Linked DNA regions of Homo sapiens: regions 2 and 3 are each linked to region 1. Evidence: fine-mapped expression QTL. A gene starts in region 1. Each other region holds a variant in brackets. All regions are shown on one strand. Distances are between the middles of the regions. Region 1 holds the start of ITGB5 (integrin subunit beta 5). Region 2 overlaps ITGB5 (integrin subunit beta 5). Region 3 overlaps ITGB5 (integrin subunit beta 5).

Region 1 (10,328 bases):
GCCTCAAGCTATCCACCCGACTGGGTCTCCCAAAGTGCTGGAATTACAGACATGAGCCAACGCGCTGGCCCCATTATTTATAATCACTGCCTCTCAAACTGGCATAAGAGTAGCTCCAAGGCCACTGACCTAAGAGACAGGTAGCTCCAAGATAAACCCAGGACAGCTCCTGTAAAATGTTTAGGGACAAGCGTTTTACATCAAAACAAACATGAGGATATTATAGAATATGTTAACCCCAAATATCTGAGACCAGTCTCAGTCAATTTAGAAAGTTTATTTTGCCAAGGTTAAGGATGTGCCAGTGACGGGAAGTCCTGACAATATGTACCCAAGGTGGTCGGGGTTACAGTGTGCTTTTATACGTTTTAGGGAGACATGAGACATCAATCAATATGTGTAAGACGTACATTGGTTTGGTTTTGTAAGGCAGGACAACTTGAAGTGGGGGCTTCCAGGTTAGAAGCAGATAAGAGACAAAAGGTTGCATTCTTTTGGGTCCTTGATCAGCCTTCCACTGAATACACAATTTAGTCTGGCTCAGTGAATCTGCATTTTTACATAAACAATAGGCCAGAGGGAGCAATCAGGTATTCATTTGTCTCAGGTGAGCCTCAGAGGGATGACTTTGAGTTCTGTCTGTCCTTTGTCCAAAAGGAATTTCCTGTGGGTAAATTGTGAGGGAGGTATGTAGCTTCTTAGCTATCTTAATTAGGCATAAAATGGGAGGCAGGTTTGCCTGACACGGTTCCCAGCTTGATTTTTCTCCTGGCTTAGTGATTTGGGGGCCCTGAGATTTATTTTCCTTTCACAAATACTATAAAGGAGCTTGCTATGGACTGCTGCATCTTTGCCCCCAGGCACACTATATTGTACTTCAAGAAGTTTACTTCCTCAGGCATTGAGGCACCACCTTGTTAGAGTTTGGGAGGAGGCCAAGAAATAAAGGTTAACATCCAAACTCCTTGAGCTGGGCAGTTAGGACAGTTTTCCACTGGGCCCTCCAAGCCATTCTTCCACCAGGTCCCTGGCCTGCAAAGGTGAGACCCCTTTGTTCTTTCCCCCTTACTGCTTCAGTTTTAGCCAAGCCATGCTGCACTTTTGAACGAGGCATCCTAGCTGTCACTTCCTCCAGCAGTTAACCCCTCTGTCCCTCGGTTCCTCAACTGGATAACAGTAGGGTTGTCGGAGGATGAAATGAGTTAATATGGGTAAAGGACTTAGAACAGTGCCTGGCTGGCAGTGTGCTCTCTGTACTTGGTAGGTATTCTATCGTTATTTTCCCCTACCTGAATGTCGCCTCTTCTCTTGCCTATCAACCACTCCACTCTAAACGCACTTGTAGCGAATCCAAGCCCAAGGCATCCTTTCCTGCACCATCTGAGGAAGACCCCACCCCACTCTTTATTGGCTAGTTCAGATCCAGCTTATATGTAAATGATAAGATGAAAGCCTGAGCATATGTTTTTGAGTCTATCAGTTTGATCATGGAAACTGACAGATTATCAGTAAGGACAACGAAATATAGCGGCATATTGGCCAGTCTCAAATCCTTGAAAGGTGCAAAAGTTAAAAAGTGAAAAGTGGGCCGGGCACGGTGGCTCGCACCTGTAATCTCAGCACTTTAGGAGGCAGACACAGGAGGAATGCTTGAGCCCAGGAGTTCAAGACTAACCTGAGCAACACAGCGAGACCCCCATCTCTACAAAACATGTAAAAATTGTCCGGGTGTGGTGGCGCGCGCCTGTAGTCCCAGTTACTCAGGAGGCTAAGGTGGAGGAACCTTTGAGCCCAGGAGGTCCAGGCTGCAGTGAGCCAAGACTGGGCCAGTGCACTCCAGCCTGAGTGAGAGCAAGACGCTGTCTCAAAAAAAAAAAAAAAAGAAAAGAAAAAGAAATGTAGGTTTTACTTGTGCCTCCACGCCCCACCACGCCCTCCCTTGCTCATCCAGAAGTCGCTTTGCGGTTCCACGCGCGGGCGTCTACGTCCCATCTCAGGCCGCCGGCAGTGAGGCTTTGGGAGGATGAGGCGGTACCGGCACGACCCCCGTACCTGCTCTCCCTCTCGCAGTCTAGCAACCGCCTTTGGCCCAAGTAATCTCGGCTCGCCTAATACAGCGTGCCCCGCCCCTTTCCCGTGGCGACGGGCGGCTAAGCAACGGGAGCGGGCTCTACTCAGTGGTTTCGAGCCCCCCACGCCCCAAGTGAGTCGCAAGCGACTTCCACCTGGGCCCGTAGGGCCTCCGCGTCCCGGGCCGGTCCCCGCACAGGGCGGAGCTGGCCCGGCCCGGAGCTCGCCCCGCCCCGCCTCACCGTAAGCTGACCGTGTGGCGGCCGGGCGAGGGCCTGGCAGGGGAGAGAAGGGGAGGAGAAAGGAGAGGAGGAAAGTGGAGCCTGGCGGGCCGGAGGGAGGAAGGGAAGGGGCGGAGGCCAGGGGCAGAGTGTGCCGGCGCGCGGGGGAGTCTCGGCGCTGGGCGCGTCTCGGAGCCCAAGTCGCGGCCGCCGAGCGGAGCCAGCCCCTCCCCTACCCGGAGCAGCCCGCTGGGGCCGTCCCGAGCGGCGACACACTAGGAGTCCCGGCCGGCCAGCCAGGGCAGCCGCGGTCCCGGGACTCGGCCGTGAGTGCTGCGGGACGGATGGTGGCGGCGGGGCGCGGGCCAGCGCGGGCGCCGTGAGCCGGAGCTGCGCGCGGGGCATGCGGCTGCGGCCCCCGGCCCTCGGCCCCCGCGCTCCGGCCCCAGCCCCGGCCGCCGGCCCCCGCGGAGTGCAGCGACCGCGCCGCCGCTGAGGGAGGCGCCCCACCATGCCGCGGGCCCCGGCGCCGCTGTACGCCTGCCTCCTGGGGCTCTGCGCGCTCCTGCCCCGGCTCGCAGGTAAGCCGCGCCGCCCACGGCGCCCAGAGAAACTTTGTCGCACACTCAGCCGCGGGCGGGCGTCTCGGAGGGGCGGGGAGCGCAGGCGGTGCCTGAGGGCGGAGGGCGCCTTCGGGGCACTCCCTGGTGGGCCAGTCGCTGGGGGACAGCCCCGCGGGGCGCTCCCCGCGCGCAGCCCCGCCGGGCTGTCGTGAGTCTCCTGTTCCCTCCCGGGCTGAGGAGGAGCTTCCCTTCCTGTGTAAACAGGCTGGCCGGCCTGCTGACCTAGCCCGCCAGGGCCCGCGCCCAGGGCACGGGGAGGACCGCCGCCAGCCCTGCCTTGGGGCCCGGGCTCTCCGTTGGCGGGCACAAAGCGGTCCTTGTGGCCGGCCGGGAGCGGGCGGGCTGCTGGGGGGATGCCGTCGGTGCCCTGTTCCCGGAGAAGCAAGGGAGTCTCGAAACCCCAGCCAAAGCCCGGGGCCACCTCCACTCCGGAGGGCTCGCCTCCTGGAACAGCGGGTGCACAGGGCCCACAGCGAATCCTGGAGTTCGCTGCGCCTAGGCTAGCCGCCTGCCTTTGAAGATGCAGCCCCCACCCTCCCCGCCCCCCGCCTGCTTCCTCCTCGCCTAGGCCACCGCAAACCCGAGGGGGCACCCGCGTCCCAAACCACAGCCCCACCTGGGACTTCCCTATTAAATTCCTTCTGCCCGACTTTATCCCGCGATTTGCACACGCTCGGAGCCTCACACTCCCCTAACTGTGGAGGATTCTGGAGCAGAGGACAGGGGCTGTGGAGATTGCCTTAGCCCGACGCTGCGGTGGGCTGGCAGCGTTGCAAGGATCCCTCGGTTACCTGCTCTAACTTTTCAGAGTTGGGAGATGATTGGACGTGGTAGTTTGGAGGCCCTCGAGGAAGGATGCACTTGTTTGGGATGCGGATTTTCTCCTTTCTTTTAGGAAATAATAGTGCTCTATTAACTTTCAAGCCGGAGATACTTGATTGCTCTTGTGAGCCAAGTGGTTGCCTGGCTGCCCGAAGGGAGGACTGTTCCCCCACGGTGTCTCATTTACATGAAGGCAGTGGAGGTTTAGGTTTAAGAGCGGAGGAGGGGTCTGAGCAAACAATAACTTCGTTCAGACCCTAATTCAAACTTAATACTGTAGCAAGGTTTTTGGTTTTTGTTTTAAATGGGAAAATAATCACTCCAGAGCTTGGAGAGTAGATGAGTGGATTCCAAACACCCATCCGGCAGCCAGTGCCCATCACGGATATTTTCATGGGTCCCTAGGGAAAGCGAGGAGCAGGAAGATGTAGCCTGCATCACACAGGAATGTATTGTTGTCAACGCTCCCCTGCTCCACAAGGACTTTCCTTTAGTTTGAAATTAGGCACTTTTTCTTTTTTTGGTGGGAACATTTTCTTTTAATACTTCTTAATAATATTAGTAGTTTTTAATTTTGGCAAAATAAGAAAATCTGACAACCCTATGTTAAGCTCCCCTTCTCTTTTTCTGTTTGTTTCTTTTGTTTTGTTTTTAAATCTTAGTTTTCTTTGAAATCCAAAAGTTCAGAAACTGCCAAAGGAGATGGCTTTTAAGTTCCTTTCCAGCTTGACATTCTGTAATTCTGACAAACAGAATTATAATAATAATTTCTAGTTGCAAATAATTTTTTTTTTTTGAGTCAGAGTTTCAGTCTTGTAGCCCAGGCTGGAGTGCAGTGGTGCCATCTCGGCTCACTGCAACCTCCACCTCCCAGGTTCAAGCAATTCTCCTGGCTTAGCCTCCCAAGTAGCAATGATTACAGGCGCTGCGACCATGCCCGGCTAATTTTTGTATTTTTAGTAGAGATGGGGTTTCACCATGTTGGCTGGGCTGGTCTTGAACTCCTCACTTAAGGTGATCTAACTGCCTTGGCCTCCCAAAGTGCTTCAATTACAGGCATGAGCCACCACGCCTGGCTGCGAATAATTTCTAAAAATACATTATTTTCCACTTGCATCTTGCTTTCTCTTTTTCAGAGTTCACGTACATCTTCACGGTGATGTCCATTTTCTCATATGGGCTCAGGAAGGAAGTGACTTGCCCTTCCCCTCTACTTGGGTCAGGAGTGGTGGACCAGGGACCATGGCTTTTGGTCCAGTGCCCTTTGTCCTACCGACTCAGCTTAAGGAAGAGAAAAGCACTGAGCATGGTGGTTCATTTGCAACTCTTTTGGGGTCCTGTTTTCCCATTGCCTATCTTTTCTTTTCTTTTTTTTTGAGACAGAGTCTCACTCTTGTTGCCCAGGATGGTGTACAGTGGCATGATCTCAGCTCACCACAACCTCTGCCTCTCAGGTTCAAGTGATTGTCCTGCTGAGTAACTGGGATTACAGGCATGTACCACCACGCCTGGCTAATTTTGTATTTTTAGTAGAGACAGGGTTTCACCATGTTGGTCAGGCTGGTCTCTAACTCCCAACCTCAGGTGATCCGCCCGCCTCGGCCTCCCAAAATGCTAGGATTACAGGTGTGAGCCACCACGGCTGGCCTCTGCCCATCTCTTTGACTACAGGTTTTGGTGGTGGTGGTGGTGGAGCAAGCCATGGCACTGGCCTCCAGAACTTGCTGCTTACCTCTTAGGGCCCTGAAGCTTCTCAGGATTAGCAGAGGTTGACTCACATCTGTGTCATTTCTCCTAGTTTTTCAGTGTTGCTGAATTAACTTCAACATTCTTTTTTTTTTTCTTTTTTTTTTTTGCTTCCCTTCCCTTCTTTGTTTTCTTGAAGCACTACAGGTACTTTATTCAGGGAGTGTTTCTGTCTTGCCACTAGGAACATTATTTGAAAGAAAAAAACCTAGTTACTCAGAGAAAAGAAAGAGATGACCCTCAGGGCCATGCCTGCCTGGGTGTTCCTGGACCAGTGGTTGAGTGCCTCTCTCTGTTGCTCTAACCCCACTTTCATCTCAGTACGGATTTCCAGCAGGAAACTGACCTTAGGTTTCAGGGGCTCATTTCAAACAAGTCCCTGGCCGGCTGACAACCCCCTCCCGTCCCCACCAAGGGCTATCTCCTGCTCTTTTTATTATCTTATGGCCAAGAGCCTTCAGACAGAATCCTAGGATGTGGTCTTCCCACAAAACCAGGGGTCTCACTGAGGTGAGGCTTTTCCACGCTGCCTTTGCTAAGACAGAGAGAGGAACACCGTCTTATAAAGAGGATCCTGCAACACCGCTGGAATTATGTGTGCTATCACATTCATTTCTTTTTAAAAAAGCAATCGAATGTTCTTCTAGTGAATGCTCTGCACATCCTAAGAAAGCCCTTTGTTTTATTTAGTGGACTCATGTTGGCAGCACCCTTCCTCTACCCCCAACCCCCTACCACATTTCCTGTGGTCTGTGATGGGGTTGTTGGAATTTGGCTGGGTCTGCAGCTCTCTGTAGGTAACCAGGCACAGGTTTAGAGCTGACAGGACAATGAAATACAAACAGTGGGTTTGGTCTGTAGACTGCTGTTTATCCTATGGATTTACATTTTAACTCCATCATCCTTGAGTTGGGGGAGCTTTTTATAAAGGGGATTGAGGCAGAAGAGGGCAGGGTCTAATTAGCTCTAATTAGTATTCCCCGCCTGCTTGTTCTCCATGCTTATTTAGCTACTGAGGCAACGGGGAATTAAAATATCTAAGTAGTTTGGCAAAAGGCCTTTTGTGCCTGCGTGGCCTGGTAACTACTTTTTCTTATTCAGCCTGGCCATGGAAATATTCTGAGATGCTTTAACGATATCAGTAATGTGGGACAATTACAAACTACTTAAATAATAGGGCCCCTTTCACATGGCAGTGTGCAGCTGGGTTAATGGGATAGGGTCTCTTTTCACAGGTATTTCCAGTTGGCTGGAGCCGAGGGCCTTGGAGAACTGACTGCCGTGGTTTGTTTTCCTTCTTTCCGGTTCGAATGGGATTAATGGCCTCTATAAATGTAAAGGAATGCTTTATTTAGAGGCACCCATTTGTTTCTGAGGCTTCTTGCTTCCGTTGAATGCAGGGTTTACTTCCCGGGCCTCATGGTGAAAAGTTTGCTCTAAGACAGGCTTGACTCATCCCCTAAGGCTGATGCTTTGAAGGCACTGCGGGGTACCCTGCCCTCTCTTTATAGGATTCCCTCCCCAACTCCAGCCAGACATTTTCAGAGCTGGTTGTCTCTTGTAGAGCTGGGACCTACTTCTGCAACTTGTTCTCTTTAGTTATTCTCAACTGTCCCTCAGAGTGATCCTGAGATCCAACTCAAGTCAGATCATATCTCTCTGCTTAAAACCTTCGAATGGTTTCCCAGAGTCCTGCCAGGCTCCACGAACTCTCCACCTACTTCTCTGACTTTCCTTCACCACTTTCCCTTCGATCCTTTGCTCCAGCAGCATGGGCCTCCCACTGTCCCTTCAGCGTGCCAGCCATGCTCCCATGGCAGCCCTTCTCCCTGCCTGGAATACTGTCCTCCAAGATATCTGCATGACCGGCTTCCTCCACCCTGCAACCCTTTTTCTAGCATCTCCTGCTCAGCCAAGTTTTCCCTGGCCGCTCCCAGCTAAAGCTGCAACCTCCTCCCTATATCCCGAGTTCTTTTTATCTGCTTTTCTTCTTTAATTTTTGTCCTTAGCACTCACCACCATCTAATGTAACTACATATCTTCTTCACTATTTCCCCTAAGTAGAATTCTCCCCCAGCCAGGATGTGAGCTCCGTGAATAAGGGAGTCTTGTTGGTTTTATTCATCTCTGTATCCTCCATGCCTACAACAGCACCAGGCACATATTTGTTGAATGAATAATGGATGAACCTGAATCTTGGTAATTGGGAGGTGAAGAGGGCGATGCATCCCGTCCTCAACTCCCTGTTGCCTTCCACAGCTAGCTTTGAAGTCAGGGACTATGCATGCGGCTTGTTAGGAAGAAACATCCTGGGAGAAAGAGATTCTGTTGGAATGTGTCAGGATTTTTTTTTTAATTGGAGTCTCACTCTGTTGCCCAGGCTGGAGTGCAGTGGTGCAATCTCTGGTCACCGCAACCTCTGCCTCCCAGGTTCAAGCGATTCTCCTGCCTCAGCCTCCCGAGTAGCTGGGATTACAGGCGTACACCACCGCACCTGGCTTATTTTTTAATTTTTAGTAGAGATGGGGTTTCACCATGTTGGCCAGGCTGGTCTTGAACTCCTGACCTCAGGTGATCTGCCCACCTTGGCCTCCCAAAGTGCTGGGATTACAGGCATGAGCCACCACTCCTGGCTTTGTGTTAGGATTTTTTGAGCTGGTATGGAGGCCATTTGGTCTACTCCCTGAGTTGTTTGCATGAGGAAGCTGAGGCCTGGAAAGGTTAAGTGACTTGCCCTAGGTCACATAACCAATAAGTGACAGAACAAGTCCTCTGATCTTTTATACCCAGTATATCCTGTTCTCCTTCCCTACATCCCTGGGTGGAGCAGAACTATCTCCTCCTCCTCCTGCTTTCATGGCCCATTCCATTAGAGAGACTGGGGGCTGCAGCTGGTCTGTCTCACCTGCTACCTGGTTAATAGCCCTGGTCTTATTTACCTGTGTCCCTGACACAGCCACAATGCTTGGTACTCAGATGATCCCTTCTCTCACCCCAGGATTTTAATGGGCTTAGAAAAACTTTATTTAAAAGATTTGGCCAGGCAGGGTGGCTCACACCTATCATCCCAGCACTTTGGGAGGCCGAGGCAGGCAGATTACCTGAGGTCAGGAGTTCGAGACCACCCTGGCCAACATGGCAAAATCCAGTCTCTACTAAAAATACAAAAATTAGCCAGGCATGGTGGTGTGCACCTGTAATCCCAGCTACTCAGGAGGCTGAGGCAGGAGGATCGCTTGAACTTTGGAGGCCGAGGTTGCAGTGAGCTGAGATCACACCACCGTACTCTAGCCTGGGAGACAGAGACTCTGTCTCAAACAAACAAACAAACAAACAAACTTTTACATATGTACTTTTTCTTTTCTTTTTCCCTTTCTTTTTTATTTTATTTTGAGATGGAGTCTCACTCTGTTGCCCAGGCTGGAGTACAGTGGTGTGATCTTGACTCACTGCAACCTCTGCCTCCTAGGTTCAAGCCATTCTCATGCCTCAGCCTTCCAAGTAGCTGGGATCACAGGCACGTGCCACCATGCCTGGCTAATTTTTTGTATTTTTAGTAAAGATAGGGTTTCACGATGTAGGCCAGGTTGGTCTTGAACTCCTGACCTCAGGTGATCTGCCTGCCTCAGCCTCCCAGAGTGTTGGGATTACAGGCATGAGCCACTGTGCCCGGTGTCTCTTTTATTTATTTATTTATTTTTTAAAAAAAGACAGAATCTCGCTCTGTCACCCAAGTTGGAGTGCATTAGCGTGATCATGGCCCACTGTAGCTTGAACTCCTGGGCTCAACTGCTCCTCCCACCTGGTCCTTGCAAATTGTTGGGATCACAGAAGTGAGCCAGTGTGCCTGGCCCTTAAAAAAGCCTTCAAAGAATTTAGAGCAGTTTTAGATTTCCAGAAAAATTGAGAAGATAGTGCAAAGAGTTCCCATCTACCTCACACCCAGTTTTGCCTATTATTAACATCTTACATTAGTATGGTACCTTTATTATAATTAATGAACCATATTGATATGTTATTATTAACTAAAGTCCATCAGTTTAGATTTCTTTAGTGTTTACCTAAGTCCTTTTTCTGTTCTAGGATCCCATCCAAGATACCACAATACATTGAGTTGTCATGTCACCTTGGGTTCCCATGGCTGTGACAGTTTCTCAGTCTTTTCCTTGTTTTTTATGACCTTGACAGTTTTAAGAAGCACTGGTCAGATATTTTGTAGATCATCCCCCTCTTGGGATTTTCTGATTTTTTCCCGTGATTAGACAGAGTTAGGTGATTTTGGAAGAAGAACATAGAGGTAATCAATTGCCTCTTTAAAAAAATACCTTTTGATAGGTAATATAGTCCCATAATTTTTAAAAGTATAACTCATATCAAGCGAGAAGCCTCTCTTTCTTGTTGCCCATCAGTGTGGGATATTTCTGTGACCCCCTTTTCTAAATAAATTGTGCCTATATAGTTCCTATTATAAAGCTAATAAGCTTTCTTATGTATCCTGAGGGTTTCTATGGATATGTTACGAATATCCCTCTTTCATTTTTATTCAGAGGCAGCACAAAACACAGTATGTATCTTGCTTTTTATTTTTAACTTAGCGATGTATTGGGGTAAGCTTCCTGTCAATACAGAGAGCATGCTCATTCTTTCTTTATAGCTGTCTAGCACTCCATTATATGAATTGGTGTTTTAAAAATAGAAGTCAGATCTGTAAGGCTGGTATTGTTGAGTGTTGTGCAGATGTCTGATGTTCATAAAGGCAGTCTTGAATGAGAACTGCTGGGATAGAACCTTCCTAGGGCATATTTGCATTTCATGGTAACATTTAGACATATGGCTATTTAGTTGC
Region 2 (10,328 bases), 26 kb after region 1:
AAAAAAAAAAAAAAAAAAAAAGAAATATAGGTCTTGAGACATTTTTTCTTTCTTTCTTTCTTTCTTTTTCTTTTTTCTTTTCTTTCTTTCTTTCTTCTTTCTTTCTCCTCTCTCTCTCTTTCTTTTTTTTCTTTTTTTTTCTTTTTTTACCTTAAACTACTAAGGGTTAAGAGACATTTTCCAGATTTATAATGTTTGTATACCTGGAAGGTCATAGCCATTACTAGATATGCCCCTGGTCTCTGTCATTTTGGTTTTCTCTCTTTAAATATGCATCTATCCTTGTTCAAAATTAAAATATCTAGGCCAGGTGTTGTGGCTTATGCCTGTAAGCCCAGCATTTTGGGCGGCCATGGCGATCATCTGAGGTCAGGAGTTCAAGACCAGCCTGGTCAACATGGCAAAACACTGTCTCTACTAAAAATACAAAAATTAGCCAGGCATAGTAGCACATGCTTGTAATCCCAGCTACTCCGGAGGCTAAGGTGGCGGGATCACTTGAACCCAGGAAGCAGAGGTTGCAGTGAGCTGAGATTACACCACTGCACTCCAGCCTGGGTGACAGAGTGAGACTCCGTCTCAAAAATGAAAATAAAAATACTTAGAAAGGAACACATGGAATAGAGGCGAAGCTCTTGGCTTGTGACCTAACTCCCTCTGTTGAGTCCGCAGCACTCTCAGTTCCTTTTCTTGGGCAACAAGAACCTATAGCTACAAATCAGTTATGGCTTACTCTTTCCTTATCGGGTCAAAAATAAATCAAAAGAAATTAGTCACAGCAATTGTTTGGACTCCGTGCCAAAAGAGATCTTTACCTCTTAGGGGAATTTCCCTGTTAAGGTAGCTGCCTTACCCTCAAAAGCTTCTTCAGACCTGCCTTGCCCCGTGGTGCCTCAGCTAGTGGCTCTGAGTCCCTAGAGCTCTGGGAAAATAATGACAGGACTCGATATATAGGTAAAGATGCCTCAAAGTTGTTGAGCACATCAACAAAACCATATGGCCTGACCTAGATAGCAAGAAAGCGAACTTTGACACTGATGATAGAGATGCCTGGCACTGAGAAGAAATCTAACTTTGGTCCGCGTGGCATATGGTGTGTCCTTTGCTGTCTATAAAGCTGGAGTTGCTGAGAATAGGACTCCCTTTGTACCATCATGTTGCTGACTTGGTCTGTGCTTCCGAAGTCAGTGCAACCCTGCAAGTTGCAGCTTTAATGTGATTAATGGTGGTTTCCACACTGGCAACCAGGTGACAGTGCAGGAGCCCATGATTCTTGTTGTTGGTGCAGCTAACTTTAGGGAAGCCTCGTATGCACTGGAGCTGAGGTTTATCACAACCTCAGCTGAAGAATGTTTTTAAGGAGAAACATGGGAAAACTGCTACCAGTGAAGGGCATGAAGAGGGCTTTGCTCCTAACATCCTAGAGAATAAAGAAGCCCCAGAGCTGCTACAGCATGCACTTGGGAAAGCCAGCGACACTACTAGGGTTGTAATAGGCACTGACCTGTCCGCCTCACAGTTCTTCAGGTCTGGGAAATATGATTTGGACTTTAAGTCTCCTGATGGTCCCAGCAGATACATTTGGCCCTGTACAAGTTCTTCTGCAATGATGGGTAGTATCCATCAAAAATCCCTTTGAGCAGGATGTTGGGAAGCTCAGATGAAGTTCACTGCCAGTGCAAGTATCCCAGCAGTGGGGGGGATCATCTCATTGACCAAACTGAAGGAATTGTGCACCTGCCTCCTGCTTAGGTGAAGCAGGTTGGCTCTGTGCCCTAGTCTATTCCAGAGTGTAAGCTGGTCCAGACCAGTGAGAGAGGTGTCAGGGGTTCTCATTACTCTGAAAAAACTGACCATGCTTCCGTTGCCACCCTGGTGGTGGGGCTGTGCACTGGACTGATCAAAACAGGTGCACCTTGACAAACAGAACTGGGCCAAGTATAGTCAGTTCCTCAGAAGCAGAGGGGCTGGATAGCAAGGCTCAGTTCGCCAGTGAGAAATTCAGAAATTCTCTAGCAGAGTAAGCACTGGGCAGGCAAGCCCCTGAGCTCTTCAAGCTCTGGAAAGCTAATTAGACATCTACTTCAGACAGCTCAAGACAGCAGACCCAAACTGGCAGGGCCCTCAGGTCGTTACCCCTCCTTTTCCAGAACCCTGTGTTTTTCTTCTCACTGCTTCACTAGAACTGCTATATCAGAGCCAAGCTTGACCACCTGGAACCCCATTTAGAAAGTTCTGCTTTTAAATCTAAGGCCAGAGGCCGGGTGCACTGGCTCACGCCTGTAATTCCAGCATTTTGGGAGGCCGAGGCGGGCAGATCATAAGGTCAGGAGATCGAGGCCATCCTGGCCAACATGGTGAAAGCCCGTCTCTACTAAAAATACAAAAATTAGCTGGGCATGGTGGTGCGTGGCTGTAATCCCAGCTACTCGGGAGGCTGAGGCAGGAGAATTGCTTGAACCAGGGAGTCGGAGGTTGCAGTGAGCTGAGATTGCGCCACTGTACTCCAGTCTGGTGACAGAGCAAGACTGTGTCTAAAAAAAAAAAAAAAAATCTAAGGCCAGAATAATATATATATGTGTATCTCTCTGTGTGTGTGTGTGTGTGTGTGTGTGTGTGTGTATATATATATATATGTTTTGTTTTGTTTTTTTAACAAAGTCTCACTGTCGCTCAGGCTGGAGTGCAGTGGCATGGATCATAGCCCACTGCAGCCCGGAGCTCCTGGGCTCGAGCGATCCTCCCGCCTCAGCCTCCTAAAATGCTGGCATGAGCCACCATGGCTGGCTAGAAAACTCATTTTTCTAACCTTGTTGCACAACAAGTGTTTATGGAGCCACTTATACCTTTGATGTAGTCCTGGAGGTTGTTGACAGGCAAGATCCTCGGGGATTTAATGCACAAATAAAAAATCGTTATTAAAAAAAAACAACCCAGAATATAAACAAACATACCGTAGGCTTAGGACAATACATCTGGCTTTACTTATTTAAAAACACTGCAGCGTCTTCTTGACTTCTTGTTCTTTTTTGTGTTTGTTTTTTGTTTTTCTGAGACAGGCTCTTGCTCTGTCGCCCAGGCAGGAGTGCAGTGGCACAATCGCAGTTCACTGCAGCGTTGAACTCCCAGCCCAAATGATCCTCCTGCCTCAAGTCTCTCAAAGTGCTGGGATTACAGGTGTGAGCCACCACACCAGGCTGACTTCTTGATCTTGAATTTTATAAGGATTCTAAAGGGCATTGGGTAGTTCCAGGACATCTGAGACCTTGAGGGAGGGTGCATTCCTCTGATTTTTGTGCCTCTGCCAGCAGTCTGGCTTCTAACAAAGTGGTCAAGGGATGCTGACTCACATGAGGCTTCTGGCAAAGTGTTCCAGAGGGAAGAGGAAGGGACCAGTGTCCTAACTCCTCCAGAAAGACTCATAGGACAGCATTGGCTTCCAGCCTGCCAGAGTGGGGGGAATCTTGTTTTTCACATTCACCAGGGAAAAGGTGAAACCCCTTTGCCGGAAATGACCAGGGAGGCTTCATGATTTATAATAAAGTATATTGTTTCATTTTAAAGTTAATACCTTAACCTTCTGGTGTCCCAAATGAGGTTGAGTTGTTCTGATGTCCAGCTTTCTCCCAAACCCAAAGAAAGATTTTTCTTATCAATGTGTCGTTATCATACAAACAACAAAGATAAAAACAAAAATGTTTTTGTCACTTTACTATAACACCTCATTTAAAATTGTTCTTTCAAATCCTAATAAATACAATTCTATATTTTGGGTTTTTTTTTCCTCCTTAGTGTAAATATTTTAAATTTCTTCTTAATTCCCATAATTATTTGTAATGGCTGTCATCTATTGAAGTGATATGCTATGTTATTCTTATGGTTTAAGGATTTAGGTTTGCAAGTTTTAAAGATTATATTATAAGTAATACTGCCGTATATATCACATAGAGTTTCTCCTTTCTCTTTAGATGATTTTCTTGTAATAAGTTTCTTGGAGTAGAGCACTGGGTCAGTGGATATGACCTGTACTGCCACATTGTTCTCCTGAATGATTATCCAGCATCCAATGCCTGTGAAAGATGATAAGTGAACAACTTAAAGGTTAACTCTTGAATGCCCAAGGGAAGACTTTTCAGCTACTTATATGTCATCTTATTTATTTAACTATATATTATTTCATCTACTTATTTATTTATTTTTAGAGAGGAGGTCTCATTATGTTGCCCAGGCTGGTCTCAAACTCTTGATCTCAAGCGATCCTCCCACCTCAGTCTCCCAAATAGCTGGGATTACAGGCATGAGCCACCATGCCCAGCAATATATAACAACTTTTAAAAAATTTTAGCTATACAACTTCTGATCATTTCTGTTTCTCTTGCTAATCATGTAGGCAGTTAGGAGCATTTTAACCATCAAAATAACAACAAAACCGAACATTTTTATTATGTGTTTACAGTTTACAAAATGCTGTCATGTCCAGCAGCTCAGTTAATCCTTACAATACTTGGTGAAGCATCTGGGATAGGGATTACCATTTCCTCCATTTTCAGACAATGAAAATGGAAAGTAGAGAATTTAAGGTCAACCAGATGGAGACGCAGCCACGACATGCGATGTTTTCGGGAGACACCCTGACCACCTCCTGCTCTCTTCCTCTTTTTCCCTGCCTAGGACTTCGGAAGCCCACGGTCCATCACCTCTCGGTGTGATCTGAGGGCAAACCTTGTCAAAAATGGCTGTGGAGGTGAGATAGAGAGCCCAGCCAGCAGCTTCCATGTCCTGAGGAGCCTGCCCCTCAGCAGCAAGGGTTCGGGCTCTGCAGGCTGGGACGTCATTCAGATGACACCACAGGAGATTGCCGTGAACCTCCGGCCCGGTGAGTTGCCCACAGAAAGGGCTGGATGCTCTGGGATCAGGAAGGCCCATGGGGGAGGTGGGACTTGTTAATAATGGGACAATGAGTCAGGCCAGGCTGAGATCAGAGCCACGAGATGGTGATGGGGAGGCAAGGCTCAGACCTCAGGAAGCAGAGTATATTCTTATTGATGTGTCTGTGGACAGGCTCCTGTGGACAGAGGAAGATCTTTGCTATTTTTAAACAATTGTGGTGAAATATACATAACATTTACCATTTAAGC[G/A]TTTTCAAGTGTACAGTTCAGCAGCATTAAATTCACAATATTGTATAAACATCAGCAGTATCTATTTCCGGAACATTTTCGTCGTCCTAAACAGAAAATCTATACCCATTAAACATTAACTCCTCATTCTCTCTTTCCCTTGGTTCCTGGTAACCAGCATTCTACTTTATTTTTTATTTTTCATTTATTTTTGTTTTTAAATTTTGTTTAAATCAGGGAGCAACTGATGGCAGAAATTACAGTCATTCAGGGTGTAGTGGCTGCCTACTCTACTTTCCGACTCTGAACTTGACTAGTCCAGATACCTACCATAAGTGGAATCATCCAATATTTGTCCTTTGAAGTTTGACTTGTTTCACTAAGTGTAATGTTTTCAAGTTTCACACATATTTTGGCATGTGTCAGCACTTCATTCCTTTTTTGGCTGAGTAATATTTCATTGTATGGGTGTATCACATTTTGTTTATTCATTTGTCAGTGAACATTTAGGTTGTCTTCAACTTTTGGCTCTTGTGAATAATGCTGTGGTTTATTCTAGGAGGATGCTGGTAGATTTACTCCTTAGTGAATGCAAGTTGCTCAGGAAACACGCCACTTTTAGGAAAAAGTGTTTTTTCCTGTCAGCAAATTCCATTTGAGTCTGTAGCATTCTGCAAGGACAAACTTTTAGAGTGGAGATATTTTGTTTTGTGACCATGGGGCCCTGCAAGCCTTAGAGTTGCTTAATATAAGGAAACGGTAATATAATTACTTATAATGTAATATAAAGAAACAGTTTTGCACACCTACTATGTGCTAAACACTTGACCTAACTTTAAGGTAGCTATCTTTTTTTTTTTTTTTTTTGAGATGGGGTATCGCTCTGTCACCCAGGCTGGAGTGCAATGGCACAGTCTTGGCTCATTGCAACCTTCACCTCCCGGGTTCAAGAGATTCTCCTGCCTCAGCCTCCCTAATAGCTGGATGTGTACCACCACGCCCAGCTAATTTTTTTGTGTGTGTGTTTTTAGTAGAGATGGGGTTTCACCATGTTGGCCAGGCTGGCCTTGAACTCCTGACCTCAGGTGATCTACCTTCCTCGGCCTCCCAAAGTGCTGGGGTTACAGGCGTGAACCACCATGCCTGGCCAGGTAGCTCTCATTTTACACACAAGGAAACAACCTGCTCAAGGTCTCTCAGTAAGTGGTGAATCGATTCAGCCCCAGGTCTTGGTAACCACAAACCCATGGCTGTTTCTAGTTCACCACTTTTATCATTGAATATTCTGCATATTAGAAGCCTTGCAATGTCAAAGGGTTAGATGTGCATGTGGCTAAATTGGAAAGTATTACGCTATTGGGAAGGGGCAGATTTTTTCACATTTTACTGATTTTTTGCTGTTTTCTTCTATCCCATGGTCTAGGAAACCATTGGCAGTAGCTATTTGTAGATGGTTTATTTAGACTCCAGGGAAGCTTGTAGCAGTGGAAAGATCATGGATCTGGCTGGCTCTCTTGGGTTCTAGCTCTGGCTCTGTCCCTAGCTTGGAGGCCCTGGGCAAGTTACTCCATCTCTCAGCATCTTAGGGTCTTTGTCACCTTTGTTCCTCATGGGCATGTTCAGAGGCTTAAATGGACTTTTTGTATCAGTGAACTTTTCAAAGTTAAAATTTTTATTATTTTCAAAGAGCAGTGGCCGAGGGTACCAGATGGAGGTTTGACCAGGGATGCTCAGTGCCTTGGAAATGGATTAACACAGTGCTGCATGTGGTAAGCACTCAGTAAAGCTCGTTGTTGTTGCTGTGGTTATCATTGTATGGTCTGCACCAAGAGTTTTTAAAGAAAGCTCCAAGTCATCATATAGTTGAGAAATGTTTTATTTTGTCTATTTTAATTGTCTTGAAAATAAGAAACAAAAGAAGAGTGTAAGTTGGCCCTGCTGGATAGAGAAGCTTAAACTATTGGGTTGCCTGCCCAGGAATCAGTGTTGAGATTAATTGAAGTTAGGATTTTTGCAAACCTTCTCACTGTAAGCAACACTCAGCCTTTTTGTTTAGTGAGATACTGAATTGAGAGAGAAAAGGAAGGGAACTCTTACAGAGCTGTGTGAGTGGGTAGAAAAAAGTCAGCTGAGCACTTATGTGGGCAGATGGTTGGTAATGTCCTCTGGGGAAAGAGAAATCTCTTATGTGAAGACAGACTCAGGGTCCAGGGTTTGGACCGAAAGGGATATAGGAGTTGTTATAGACCCTTAATATGTTGGAACATCGTGTTGTATAAGAATAGTGTATTTTCTTTTTTATCATAGTAACAGTATAGCAATAACACATGAAATTCTAGAAAAATAATCCACTTTAACATAAAATTATTTTTCATTTTTACTATGTCCTCTGTATTATTCACCTTTTTGTATTTTTCATATACTTATCATAATGTATGTATAATCGTGCTATTTTCATTCAATAATCTTTGAAAATTAGGAAAAAAATTCACACCTCCAAAAGAGTTTGTAGTTTCAGAGCCATTGTGGAGGAAGGTTTTAATTTACATTTTCTGAACTCCTCATCTAGAATAGCTCTCAAAGCCTGTGGTGTTCTCTCCAAGAAGTATCCTTTATGGTGGCAAGTCTCTCTTCTTCAGGATAGACTTAACTTAGACAAGAGTTGCATCACACAAATCCAAAGATGTCCACACTTTAATAATTCCAGTTTTTAAAATGAGAATTAAGGTGTGAGTGTGAGCAGAGATGGTTGTCTGGTTTGACTATCAACTGGCTTTTACAGCAGTTCCTGTAGAAGAGTTAGAGAGTTAGAGAAGGCCGGGTGTGGTGGCTTATGCCTGTAATCTCAGTGGTTTGGGAGGCCAAGGAGAGAGGATCGATTGAGGTCAGAAATCTGAGACCAGCCTGGGCAACATAGTGAGACCCCGTTGCTATGGGGGAGACTGAGGTGGAAGGATCCCTTGAACCCAGGAGTTTGAGGCTCCAGTCTAGATGAAGATGAGACTCTAAAAAACAAAAACAACAACAACAACAAGAACCCAAAATAAAAAATAAGTGATTTGAGTAACGGCAGGTTTGCATACAATCCGTATTTATGCATAAAACTCAATATATGCTCAGTTAAGGAAGAAAATCATTCTTATTTGGTATAGTTACATCTCCTGCTAAGCATTATGATATGATTTCTGGTATTAGAAATAAAATGGAAACCGTGATCCTATGTTGATACAAAACCACAGTGTGGATGCTGTGTAGCTCTGTCTTGCGGAAGGTGTCGTGGTGGAGAGCCCAGTGCTGGTGGTGTCAAGCAGTTGGAGGAGCTGACTGCCTCCTGAAAACACACCCAGACTATGAAGAGGGTTCAGTCTGAAGAGATGAAGACTAGGAAGAGATCTGATGAAAATACGAGTTCCTAAGACCTACAAGCATTGTGAATATGTTTCCCAAATGTAGAAACACTTGAAACCAATGATGCCTCTTAAAATTTTGAAAATATAATTTTAACATTTACAAAGAGAAGTACAGGCAAACCTGAAGAATTTGTGGGGAGAGAAAAATGGTATGTGGCAGTTAGCAAAATTTTCAGTCATGCAAAATGCATATTTGCCTCAGGGTATCTCCCCCCTGACTCTAGGGAGGGCTTTCAGGTATATAGGGGTTGGTTTTTCATATATCTATCTATATATATGTAGAGAGAGACAGAGTCTCGCTCTGTCGCCCAGGCTGGAGTGCAGTGACGTGATTTCAGCTAACTGCAGCCTCCAGGTTCAAGCGATTCTTATGCCTTAGCCTTCTGAGTAGCTAGGACTGCAGGCACACACCACCACACCTGGCTAATTTTTGTATTTTTAGTAGAGACGGGGTTTCACCATGTTGGCCAAGCTGGTCTCGAACTCCTGGGCTCAAGTCATCTGCCCACCTCGGCCTCCCAAAGTACTGGGATTACAGGTGTGAGCCACTGCGCTGGGCCTCCATTGTATATTTTTAGAAATGCTTTTGTGTCTTCTTCCTTGCCCTACCCCCCATGCCTCATAATAGTTATTCGTTGAGTGAAATATAAGACTTTGCCAGACTTATCGCAGACTAATCAAGGACAAGCCTCAGCATAATATGAAAGACACTTCATGAAGGCAAAGTAATTGTTCCAAGGTAAGTCTCAGGAAGGAAATAAAAATTAAAAAGAATTTCTGTCTACTTTAAGCAGGACATTTTTTATTTTTTTAAATTGAGATATAATTCACAGACCATAAAATTCACTAACTTAAGGTGTACAATTCAGTGGTTCTTAGTATATTTGCAAGGTTGTACAGTCAACACCACTGTCTGATTCCAGAACATTTTCCAAAAAGAAGTCCCATACCCGTGAACAGTTACTGCTTAAACTACCGTCTCCCACCCTCCCCTTTCAGCCGCTGGTATCCACTCGTCTACTTTCTCTCTATATAGTTTTGCATATTCTGGACATTTCCTATACGTCATAAAATGTGTGGGTCTTTTAGCTGGTTTCTTTCACTTAGCAACATGTTTCAAGGTTCATCCATGTTGTAGCATGTACTTCATTCCTTTTTATGGCCAAATAATATTCCATTGTGGAGGTATAGATATACTATATTTTAGTTTATGGACATTTGGGCTGTTTCTACTTTGGGACAATTCTTTTTTCTTTTAATAACTCCACAGTTAACACCCTATACTTTGGGGCAATTATGACTAATGCTGCTATGAACGTTCATGTACACACTATTGTGGGGACATATGTTTTCAATAATCTTGGGTCTATAGCTAGGAGTGGAATTGCTGGGTCATATGGTAATTCTATGTTTAACTTTTTGAAGGACTGCCAAGCTTCAAGCAGGATTTTGTGTAAATATAGGATCATGTTTTCCATTTTATTTCAGTACTGGAAACTACATGTCAGGATAAGAACCTTAGAAAAAATCATTAACAAAGAGCATAAAATCCTTAAGAAAGGACATAAACTTGAAAGTAAAGCTTATTGAGAACCGTCAAAAGCTAAAGGTGGTTTTGAAACACTGAGCAATTAAGAATAGTTTATTAAAGTCATTATTGGCCTCAGTCCTTTAACCTCTTAAAAAATGACCCTTGATTGGTAGCTTTCTTACATTTTGAAATAATTTTAGACTCACAAGAAGTTGCAAAAGTAACACAGAGATGTTCTATGTACCCTTCTCCGCTGTCCTCAATGATAGC
Region 3 (10,328 bases), 110 kb after region 1:
CCCTCACACGCCCGCATCTACACAGTTAAGACTGCATTCCACAGCGGACTCCGGGCCCGAGTCTGGCTTTCCTTCCCTCTCCTGGAGGGCTTGCCATCTGCTTCAGCGCTGCCTGTGACATGGGAGGGCACCTGCTCAGCACACATTTGCTGTGGCTCTGAGACCCCTGGGTAAGCAGAGAGGCTGTCTGAGCACAGGAGGGTTGGGAGGCTTGGCTGTCCAGATGGTCCCCCTGCCGCCTACAGGTTCTGGGCACCAGAGAGTGGACGGAGCCAGGGGAAGCAGGGGCAGGAAGTTAAGTGGCGGGTGAAGAGGCTTTCTGGAGTTGAGTTCTGACCTATATTATATTGTGGGTCACACACATTGGTCGTCCAGGGAAGGTGCTGGGATCCAGTTAACAAGCCAGGTAACTGACTCAGATGTGGAAGTAAAATGAAAGGTCTCCCCACCCTGCCTCTCCAGTCACCCACTAGTTGATGAGTGGTGCTCAGCAAATGAAACTCTTGGTTGTATTAATATCAGCCTTCACATAATGGCATTAGGGAAAAAAATAATACAAAGTTGATTTTTTAAAAAATACCAATTGTAGCACTGCGTTCTGCCTCTGATTGTGTAGAAAATGGAGACTCCACTGTCAGGCCCTTGGTCCCCTTGGAAGACGGTGCTATCTAGTCTTTTCACAGTCCAGCACGCTCACACTCCAGAACAAACACTCACACTCCAACACACCCTCACACACACACTCCAACACACACAGATGCTCGCACTCACACACATCCTCCCTCACACTTGCACTCCAACACACATACACTCACACTTGTACACACTCATGCACACTTGCACCCACTCACAAACATACACTTAAATACTTCCTCACACACACTTGCACTCACACACTCATACACACTCACACTCGCTTTCTCACAAGCACACACATTCCTCTGAGCCGAGTGATATTCCTGCCCCTCACACCTGCTGAGTGGGGGCAGCCCCCGCCTCTCCACCCTTGCAGGCGATGGAGAGGACCCCCTGCAAGGAAGGGCCAGGGCATCCCCCTGCAGGTTCTAGTCCTGGCTGCCTGTGCTCATAGGAGGCAGTAGACTTTGGCACTGAGATCATGGACTCTGGAGCCAGACTCTCTGGGTTTGAGTCCTGGCTCTGCTGCCACTAGCTGTGTGACCATCAACCATTGCTTCACCTTTCTGGGTCTTGGTTTCACCCCTTATATAACAAGGACAATAATGCCTGCCCCATAAGTCACTGTGCGGATTCATCCCATTTCTACGTGTAAGGTGCTCATATAGGAAGCACTGGTGAGTGTTAGCTGCTGCTGCTGCTGCTGCTGTTCTCAGCATCTGCTCCTAAATCATCCATTTCTGGGTTTCGGGTCCCTGGGCAGGAATTCAGCTTCTAACTAGGACTCAGGGAGAACAACCGTGTTTTCTGCTATGGCTGTAACAGATGACCGCAGATTTAGTGACATAAAGCAACACGGATTTATTTTCTTACAGCTCTGGAGGTCAGAAGCCTGAAATCATTTTCACTGGGCTAACATGGAGGTGTCGGCAGGGCTGCATTCCCTCTGAGGCTCCCAGGGAGCATCGGCTTCCTGGCCTTTCCAGCCTCCAGAGCTGCATTCCTCGCATTCCTTGGCTCTTGGCATCCTCCCCATCTTCAGAGCAGCAGCCAGCATCCTGGCTTCTGTTGTCCCACTGCCACCTTCCTCTGTAGTCCAGTCTCCCTTGCTCCCTCTCAGAAGAACCTTGGTGATTACATTTAGGGCCCACAGAGACAATCCAGGAGAATCCCTCATCTCAAAATCCTTAACTTAATCTCATCTGTGAAAGCTCTTTTGCTGTAGAAAGTAACAGTGATACTCTGGGGATTGGAGTGGGAACATATTTGGGGGCCATTATTCACACAACTGAAGCAGGAGGAAGCTTCCCTGGGTCCTGGCCCTGTGGCCCAACTTGGCCAAGTTCTGGACCAACTTGGAGCACCAGTCTAGACCCAACCCAGCCACACCCGCTGCCAGGGTCCCCTGCTGTCCCTTCATGCTGGCTCTAGGCCCTCTGTCTATCTCCCCAAACAGGCTCTGAGGGCAGAGTTGGTGTTCCATTCTCTGCTGAATCCCAGTCCTGGCATGTGGGGCACCAGATGGTTATGTGCTCATGTGTAAAGGTGAGCAGGTGCTGATGTGCCACATGTATCCTTTTAGGCCATGGCGAGTGTCACTGCGGGGAATGCAAGTGCCATGCAGGTTACATCGGGGACAACTGTAACTGCTCGACAGACATCAGCACATGCCGGGGCAGAGATGGCCAGATCTGCAGCGAGCGTGGGCACTGTCTCTGTGGGCAGTGCCAATGCACGGAGCCGGGGGCCTTTGGGGAGATGTGTGAGAAGTGCCCCACCTGCCCGGATGCATGCAGCACCAAGAGGTACTGGTTCCACTGACAGCCCCACCTTACTTCTCACCCAGGCCAGGCCTGTGGTCCAGCCAGGCAGCCCTCAGGGCCGGCTAGCCTCCACTCCTCACCTCCTGCATCTCCCACCCAGCAAGCCTCGCTGGGGAGCCGCATTCTTACCAACCGTAACTGAAACTGTGGCTTTCAAATGCTGGTTCCATAAGGGTTTTGTAAGAAAACAAAAACAGAACAAGAAATACAAAACTGCTACTCTGTTCCTAAACACGTTTAGAAATCACGAAATCACAGAGTTAAATGAAATTAAATTGGTGTTGGTACCAAAAATAGCACCTTCTCAGAGCCTTGAGTGTACTATTGTGTGCTTTCACAGGAGAATACAGTGTGCATCTTTTTTCAAATGAATTAAATCCCCCACACTGATATCTCCCAAACAGTGTTTCACAGAACCCTTATGGGAAATGCTGACAAACATCATCAGAAGGTAAATTGGAAAGAGGCCGGGCATGGTGGCTCACACCTGTAATCCCAGCTCTTTGGGAGGCCAAGACGGGTGGATCACTTGAGGTCAGGAGTTTGAGACCAGCCTGGCCAACATGGTGAAACACCCGTCTCTACTAAAAATACAAAAATTAGCGGGGTGTGGTGGCACGTGCCTGTAATCTCAGCTGCTCCGGAGGCTGAGGCAGGAGAATGGCTTGAACCTGGGAGGCGGAGATTGCAAGATCGCACCACTGCACCCCAGCCTGGGCAACAAAGTGAGACTCCGTCTCAAAAAAAAAAAAAAAAAAAAGTAAATTGGAGAGAAAGGCACCCGACCTAGATAAGGCATGCCAGAAACCACTGCAAATGGCTTTTGAATTTTCTGCTCCATTTATACAGATAATAGAACACGGGCTCTGTGCTGCTGCTGAATGCAGAGATTGTCTAGACCTGGGCCCCAGCCTTCGCTGACTCGGCCATGGCCTCCCATAGCCGTGCTGACCTCCTCCTGCTCAGCCCCGCATGCTCCACCAGAGTGCAAATGAGAGGGAATTACAGAATGATGCCCCTGGAAAGCAGGAGTGACATTTGCTCTTGGAGTTTGCTGGAGAAACAGCTGTGTCATCATTACCCATGCTAAGGAGGAAGGGACACAGAGGATCAGAAACAAATCATAATACAAACGTCGCTTCTCTTTGGCTGAGGAACGCATCTGTGATTTTCTCTTGGCAGATTTCCCTTCCAAATGTCTGGCTCGGGCTGATAATGAAATGAGTTCATGCTCCCTGCGCCTGCAGCGGCTGCTGGTCAGTCTGTGCTCGGAAACGTTCTGGGTGGCAGAACCCCTGGTTGGACATTTGCCATAAATAACCCAGGCGTGGGTAATTGAAAGCTGGCTGCAGATGGAGAGACAAGATAGACAGGGCTGGGTTTTAATGTGTTTAATTGGAGGAGATGGGGGAGAGTAAGGAAGAAGAAAAACAGATTCACTTTAGACCTGCTAAGAGCAGAGAAAAAACAGATCCAAGTAGAAACAGCCCGGGGAAGGTTAGGATCCTGGATCTGGAGCCCAGATAGCTGTGGCCATCCCAGCACAGAGTCAGCCATTATCCACGTTTTGTATCCGAGGGAGGTGCCCCCAACCTCCAGCTCCCAGCAGCAGAACCTTTTTGAGCCTATGCTTCTAGTCCTTGGGGCACACTAGGTAAATGGGGAGTTGGGGTCAAGCTAGGACAATACACATGGAGCTCATCAAATGAGTCTTGCCTTCCTATGGAGCAGCAGGCAATGGAGGATTGGCTTTAAGTCAAAGGCCCAGGGGAAAACAGCTCTAGCTTTAAATGTTTAAAGCATTTATTTCTTAGAAGACATAGACTTAATAATTTATTATTCATTACACAATATGAAGGGAGCAAGGAGAGCAAAGAGATGCCACAAGGGAATATCACGATTCCTTTTTTTTTTTTTTTTTTTGAGACAGGGTCTCACTCCCGCCACCCAGGCTGGAGTGCAATGGCACCATCACAGCTCACTGCAGCCTTGAACTCCTGGGCTCAAGTGATCCTCCTGCCTCAGCCTCCCAGGTAGCTAGGACTATTGGCTTGTACCACCACACCTGGCTAATTTTTATTTTTTTGTAGAGACAGGGTCTTGCTATGTTGACCAGGCTGGTCTCAAACGTCTGAACTCAAGCAATTCTCCCACCTCAGCCTCCCAAAGTGTTGGGATTACAGGTGTGAGCCATTACACCCAGCCCACTATTCCTTCTTATTTGTCTCTGGGCCACACTGACCCTCTGTCTCTTTCACAGCCTAGGTGGAACTTTTTTTTCTTTTTAAACGAAGTCCTTTTGATGGTGACTTACATCAGAGTCTGTTTTTTCTACTTGCTGCTTGTTAGGAGGCACCAGGTTTTGAATGTCCTACATCCTTTTTTTTCTGGGGGTTTCAGGGCAGCCAGTCTTCGTTTTCTGGATCTAAC[T/C]AACCACACTTTTCACTTTGGGTGAGTTCACACTCAACACCCAGCTGATTTCAGTTAACAGGCTCTCAAGAGCAAAGTGTCTCTAAACAACTTAATTTTTTTAAAAGGCAGACTTATTTTAGTACATGACTACAATATATTACAAGTTTCAACCAGTACATGGGGCATATGAGTTAGACTGATATGTCCACATGGATACTTAGGGAGTGTTTCCTGGAAGCAGCCTGGAGCTATGGTTTAACAACAGAGAATCAGATGGCAGGGACAGAGAATCCTGGCCGGGAGAGAAAGCAGCCCTCTTAGCCCTGTGCTAATCTGGGAGGCTGGTGCAGGGGGAGGGTGGGGGATCGGGGGCAGCTGGGTCAGCATGAATGACTGAAGCTGGAACCACCCCTTCCTGGCCCCCAGCCAGGTCTCAGCTGCCCGCCTTCCGGGGCTGTGACTGTGGGGAGAGTTACCATCTTGTTTCTAACTTCAGAATATTTCCATAAAGTCAGTCCCAGGAGAGTGGGATTTTGTAGCCATTTCAGGGATGGTTGAGCTCCTAAGCATGTTAGAACCTCTTAGGAAGCCTAGTCTGAGAGGTGGGGCACCTGGCTGCAGAACCTCAAGTTCTCCTCCGTAAAATAAAGGGGACTTAGTGAAATGGTCTCAGAGCTCCCGTCCAGTTCTGCTCCTCCACTTCGCAGTTTCTGCACTGGAAATGTTTTAGTAGCTGGCCTCTTAATCCCGAGGAGTTAAGAAACAGATGATGATAAAGGCTCTACATTGCAGTTGCACATCCCTCTGTATTTTTGCCAGAGAGCTTTCTGGACACCCAGCCCCTTTGGTCCCCACAGGCCTGTGGGGGCACAGCGGCTGTCCCTCGTGTAGCTGAGGTCACCCCCTGCACTCTGATGGCCTCCCTGGCACACCTGGCTCTTGAGTCCTGACCCGGTTTCCTAGGGGCCTCTCCTGGTGTCTCACCCTCCTCGAAGGCCACCAGGCAGCACTGCATCACAAAGTCCCTGAGAGCAACATGCCCCAGCCCACTCCTCCCTGGAGCTTCGAGCTCACCATCTTATAGCCCCATCCCCCAGCCACCAGAGGAGCCTGGGACCTCTCCCCTTGAACATCAGCTTTACAGCCCGGCAGCCAGAGCTTAGCTCCCCACCCTGTGACCTCAGGAATCCTGTTCTCCCAGATGTCTCCGAAGACAGACAAAGAATGTGTGCAACTTGGTTTTGATGATATAAAGTATAATAATGACCATTTAATTGAACGTTGTAGTTAAGCATTTTCACCCACTATCTGAGCCACCACCTGCTGTTAGCCTGAGGTGGGAGGAGAGAGGCTCAAGGTGTCACTTTTTGGCTGCTCATCCATTTTCTAGAGGAGGCCCCTGTTAAAGAACAAGGGTTCCCTGGGAGGAGCCATCACCCTAGAGCCTGTGCCAGAGCCTAGTGTAGACTGATTCGTGGGTAAGTGGGCAGCAGGCCACGGGGGACCTGGCAGATGGGCTCTATCTGAGAGGGAGAAGGGGGCTGGAGCCCGAGATTCTCCGGGACAGTGGATCTCAGCCCTCGACATGCATCAGAATTGCCCAGGAAGCCCAGTCCCCGGAGGTGTGGTTGGGCCCAGGTACTGGGAGTTTCTCTTGAAAGCTCCCTGGAGAGTTGAACGTGCAGGAGGGTTGAGATCCCCGCCCTGGGTGATGACCAGGGCGTGATGTGGGGAACTAGGACAATGTTGGGGCATTGAGCTCTGACCATGGGAGTGTGAGGAGCTCTGGGAGGCCAGGAATACTGTTTTATCACCCAGAAACCTCTGGCTTGGAGCAGACTCCTCACCAGGCATTAGATGGACCAGAGTGCAGATGGATTTGTCTCCTGGTGTCAGAATTTGAAAGGTCTGCAACCTGACATGTAGACAAGACATGCCACTAAACTCACACAGGCTCCTCCAAGAACCCTTGGGCTTCCTCCCATAACAAGAAGAAAGGCAGAGCAGAAACATTCCCTGAGGCTGAACATCTGCAGCTGGAAAGAAGTGAAAGCCTTCCCAGGTCCTGCACTGTCAGGAGCTCAGGGACAGGTGTGGGACTGTTCTACATTATCTGACACCCACCTTTATCTCCTCTTTTCCAAAGAGATTGCGTCGAGTGCCTGCTGCTCCACTCTGGGAAACCTGACAACCAGACCTGCCACAGCCTATGCAGGGATGAGGTGATCACATGGGTGGACACCATCGGTGAGTGTGCTGCCACCACCCGGGCAGTCACGGTTTTTCTCCTTCCTGGGGAGGAGGGTAGTTTTAGCCTTGAGTCAGGAGGCACTGCCCAGGCTTCCTGGGCATAACTGTGGGCTCCCCATGAGGACCCGGTGCTGGAACCATCATCCACAGCTGATGGGAATGTAGAATGGTACGGACTTTGGAAAGCAGCTTGGCAGTTTCCTAAAAAGTCAAACGTAGAATCACCATACAATGTGCCAATTCCACTCCCAGGTATACAGCCTAGAGGATTAGGTCCATATGTCCATGTAAAAATACGTACAAAAATGTTCACAGCAGCATTATTCGCTATAGCCAAAGGTGGAAATGAACCACATGTCCATCAACGGATAAATAGAAAAGAAAACAAAGTGTGGTCCATCTATACAGTGGACACTATTGAGCCACTAAGAGGTGTGAAGCACTGAAACACGCTACGGCACGGTGAGGCCTGACCACAGTGCGGAGCAAAAGAAGCCATGTATTATATGGTTCTGTTCATATGAAATGTCCAACACAGAGAAAGCCATGGAGACAGAAAGTACATTAGTGGTGTCCTGATGCTAGGGAGAAGGGAAAATTGGCATTGACTACTAACAGGTGTGGATTTCTTTCTGTGGTGATGGAAATATTCAGAATTAGTGGGAATGGTTACACAACATTGTGAGTTGAGTAAAACGACTGATTGTACACTTTAAAATGGTTTAAATGGTGAGGGGGAAATTATGCACCTTGAAAGGGAATCTGTGTCTCAGGCTCCCCTCACTGGCAGGCTTCCCCTCTATCTTCACCTCTGGCTTCTGCAAACTCCTGGCCCCCAGCTGCCTGTCTGTCTTGGTCCTAACGTACATCTTTTGTAGACTTCCTTGTTCCCACCTGCCTATTTTGACTGACTACAGTCACGGCTTCTGAGGGTTTTTTGTCTCGAGACAGGGTCTCTGTCACCCAGGCTGGAGTGCAGTGGCACCATCATAGCTCACTGGAAGTCTCGACCTCCTGGGCTCAGGCAAACCTCTTTCCTCAGCCTCCCAAGTAGCTGGGACCACAGGCATGTGCCACCATGCCTGGCAAATTTTTGTTTTTGTAGAGACGGAGTTTCACCATGTTGCCCAGGCTGGTCTCAAACTCCTGGGGTCAAGCAGTCCACCTGCCTCAGCCTCCTAAAGTGCTGCCATTACAGGTGTGAGCCACCATGCCCAGCTCCTTCTTAATATTTGAGCTATATATGCATCCAGCACATATTCGTTGAGCGCCTACTGTGTGCCAGGTGCTGTCTATCTCCTTAGGAGACTGTGGGGAGTGGACCACAGTCTGGTTCCTCACATGCCTGTCTTCCTGCCCCTGCTTCTATCTTGCAGCTCAGGGCCTGGCCGACCTCAGGTTCTGCCAGCAGACCTGGGCTGGTTGCCCCTAACTAGGCACACATGGTCAGAGAAGGAAACAATGCCTTCCTGTGGCCCAAGGACTGGTTCGCTTGGTTTATAGCAGTGACAGCCGTTCATGCACAGCTGCTTCCCAACCCAGTCCTCTGAGAGAGCAGCAGAGAAAGCTTATGTTCCAATCCATCATTTACCCTTTTTCTTCTTTCTTCCAAGCTTTTTTCATACACACACTCACATGCTCACTCATACTCACCCAGCCCAGAAGGGAGCTGAGACAGAAAGTCCAGGCTTTCGTGTCTGATAACCACACTAATTCATCTGCTTCCAGGTTACAGCTCCGTCTAGCAGCAAGGTTGAAAAGGTTAAAAAGGCAAGAGCTGGAAAGCATTTACCGCCCTAGTGTTCACCTTCTGTTCCTCCCCAGGACCCATTGCCATTGCCACTGCATTTCCTCACCCCTTGCCTCACTTTGCACTTCCCCTAGTTCCTTTCTCTCCAAAAAACAGCCCGCTAACCCTCTCCCAGGGAAGCCTTGGAATGTAGGTAATGCCTGGACAGGGGACTGTGACACCCCCACCTTGGGGAATGGCAGCAAGGGGGCAGGGAGTTGCTGAGGCAGCTTGAGGAAGGGGCTTCTTAATATGGAGGAGGGAGGCCGGGCCACGTTCAGGGCCAGGCTGGGGACAGCCTGAGTTCCACACTGTCTCACTTTATCTCCAGGCATGGCCACCACGGTGGGCACCAGCCTCTCACCCAGTGTCCTCACTGCCCTGTGGTTCTTTTTGATTTTGCATCCCAGGAAGGAGTTGCTGCCTCTTGGCCTCTGTGGCCAGCTCTCAGCCCCAAGTGGCCTGGGCTGTTTCTCAAATATGAAGCCCCACTCAAGCCTCAAAGGGGGCTGGGATGGTTTTTCTTTCTTTCTTTATCCCTTTAATTTCCGTGGCCAATCCCTTCACCCGTCCCCACCCCGAAACCATTAAAACCTTCTGTTATTTCACATCACCCCCGACTAACACTTCAGAGGCTTGGAGATCCTCTAATGTGTTCCACGTGTCCCCAAAGCCATCTAAATTCAGCCCTGGGCCTGCATTCTTGGTGTGAGAAAACTGAACTCATCTTCAAAGGCCCAGCCTCCCCTTAAGATTTTCTGCCCACACCCCCCATGCCCTTTCCTTTTTCAAGGCACTCGGCTCCCTGCCCCGACCATCAGTGGCTGTGGGCTGCTCAGAGAGACTCAGGCCATTCCCGCTTGGTTTTCTTCCAGTGAAAGATGACCAGGAGGCTGTGCTATGTTTCTACAAAACCGCCAAGGACTGCGTCATGATGTTCACCTATGTGGAGCTCCCCAGTGGGAAGTCCAACCTGACCGTCCTCAGGGAGCCAGGTAGGTGAGGGCTGCAAGGGCTCGGCCCACTCAGCCAGCCCTCAGTTCTGATTTCTGATGCCATTCTCTGCTCTGGGACCACTGCCCTTTCTGTCCTCATCGGCCTTTTGAAACTGCAGGGAGAGGAGGGATACAATTTCTTCTTTTTCTTTTTTTTTTTTTTTTTGACACAGGCTGTCACTGTGTCATCCAGGCTAGAGTGCAGTGGTGCCATCACAGCTCACTGCAGCCTTGACCTCCTCGGGTTCAGGTGATCCTCCCGCTTCAGCCTCCCGAGCAGCTGGCACTACAGGCATGCACCACCACACCGGGCTAATTTTTGTATGTTTTTGGTAGAGACAGGTTTTCACCATGTTGCCCAGGCTGGTCTCGAACTCCTGGGCTCAAACAATCCACCTGTCTTGGCCTCACAAAGTGCTAGGA

The links. PIP is the estimated chance that this variant, and not a neighbour inherited with it, causes the effect.
Region 2: its variant is the best candidate, but not a certain one, in a credible set for the expression of ITGB5 in tibial nerve (GTEx, PIP 0.58).
Region 3: its variant is the best candidate, but not a certain one, in a credible set for the expression of ITGB5 in whole blood (INTERVAL, PIP 0.60).

What each region holds. Positions count from the first base shown.
Region 1 is chr3:124,879,475-124,889,802 of GRCh38, reverse strand. ITGB5 (integrin subunit beta 5) reads left to right here and starts at 2,438. Exons shown (of 15, transcript NM_002213.5): 1 at 2,438-2,872. The coding sequence starts at 2,803. RefSeq lists enhancers at 178-1,062, 1,063-1,945, 3,714-4,598 and silencers at 2,060-2,499, 2,960-3,049, 6,107-6,401.
Region 2 is chr3:124,853,790-124,864,117 of GRCh38, reverse strand. ITGB5 (integrin subunit beta 5) reads left to right here. Exons shown (of 15, transcript NM_002213.5): 3 at 4,672-4,876. It also overlaps the pseudogene ENO1P3. Among named protein-coding and RNA genes, the nearest start is that of ITGB5, 28 kb to the left of the region's middle. RefSeq lists an enhancer at 4,773-5,310. The variant G/A (reference allele first, on the strand shown) is at 5,139.
Region 3 is chr3:124,765,803-124,776,130 of GRCh38, reverse strand. It overlaps ITGB5 (integrin subunit beta 5), which reads left to right. Exons shown (of 15, transcript NM_002213.5): 11 at 2,219-2,441; 12 at 7,018-7,118; 13 at 9,786-9,905. Among named protein-coding and RNA genes, the nearest start is that of MIR544B, 39 kb to the right of the region's middle. RefSeq lists enhancers at 457-1,172, 1,173-1,887, 2,604-3,318, 3,319-4,034, 4,975-5,054 and a silencer at 7,134-7,183. The variant T/C (reference allele first, on the strand shown) is at 4,890.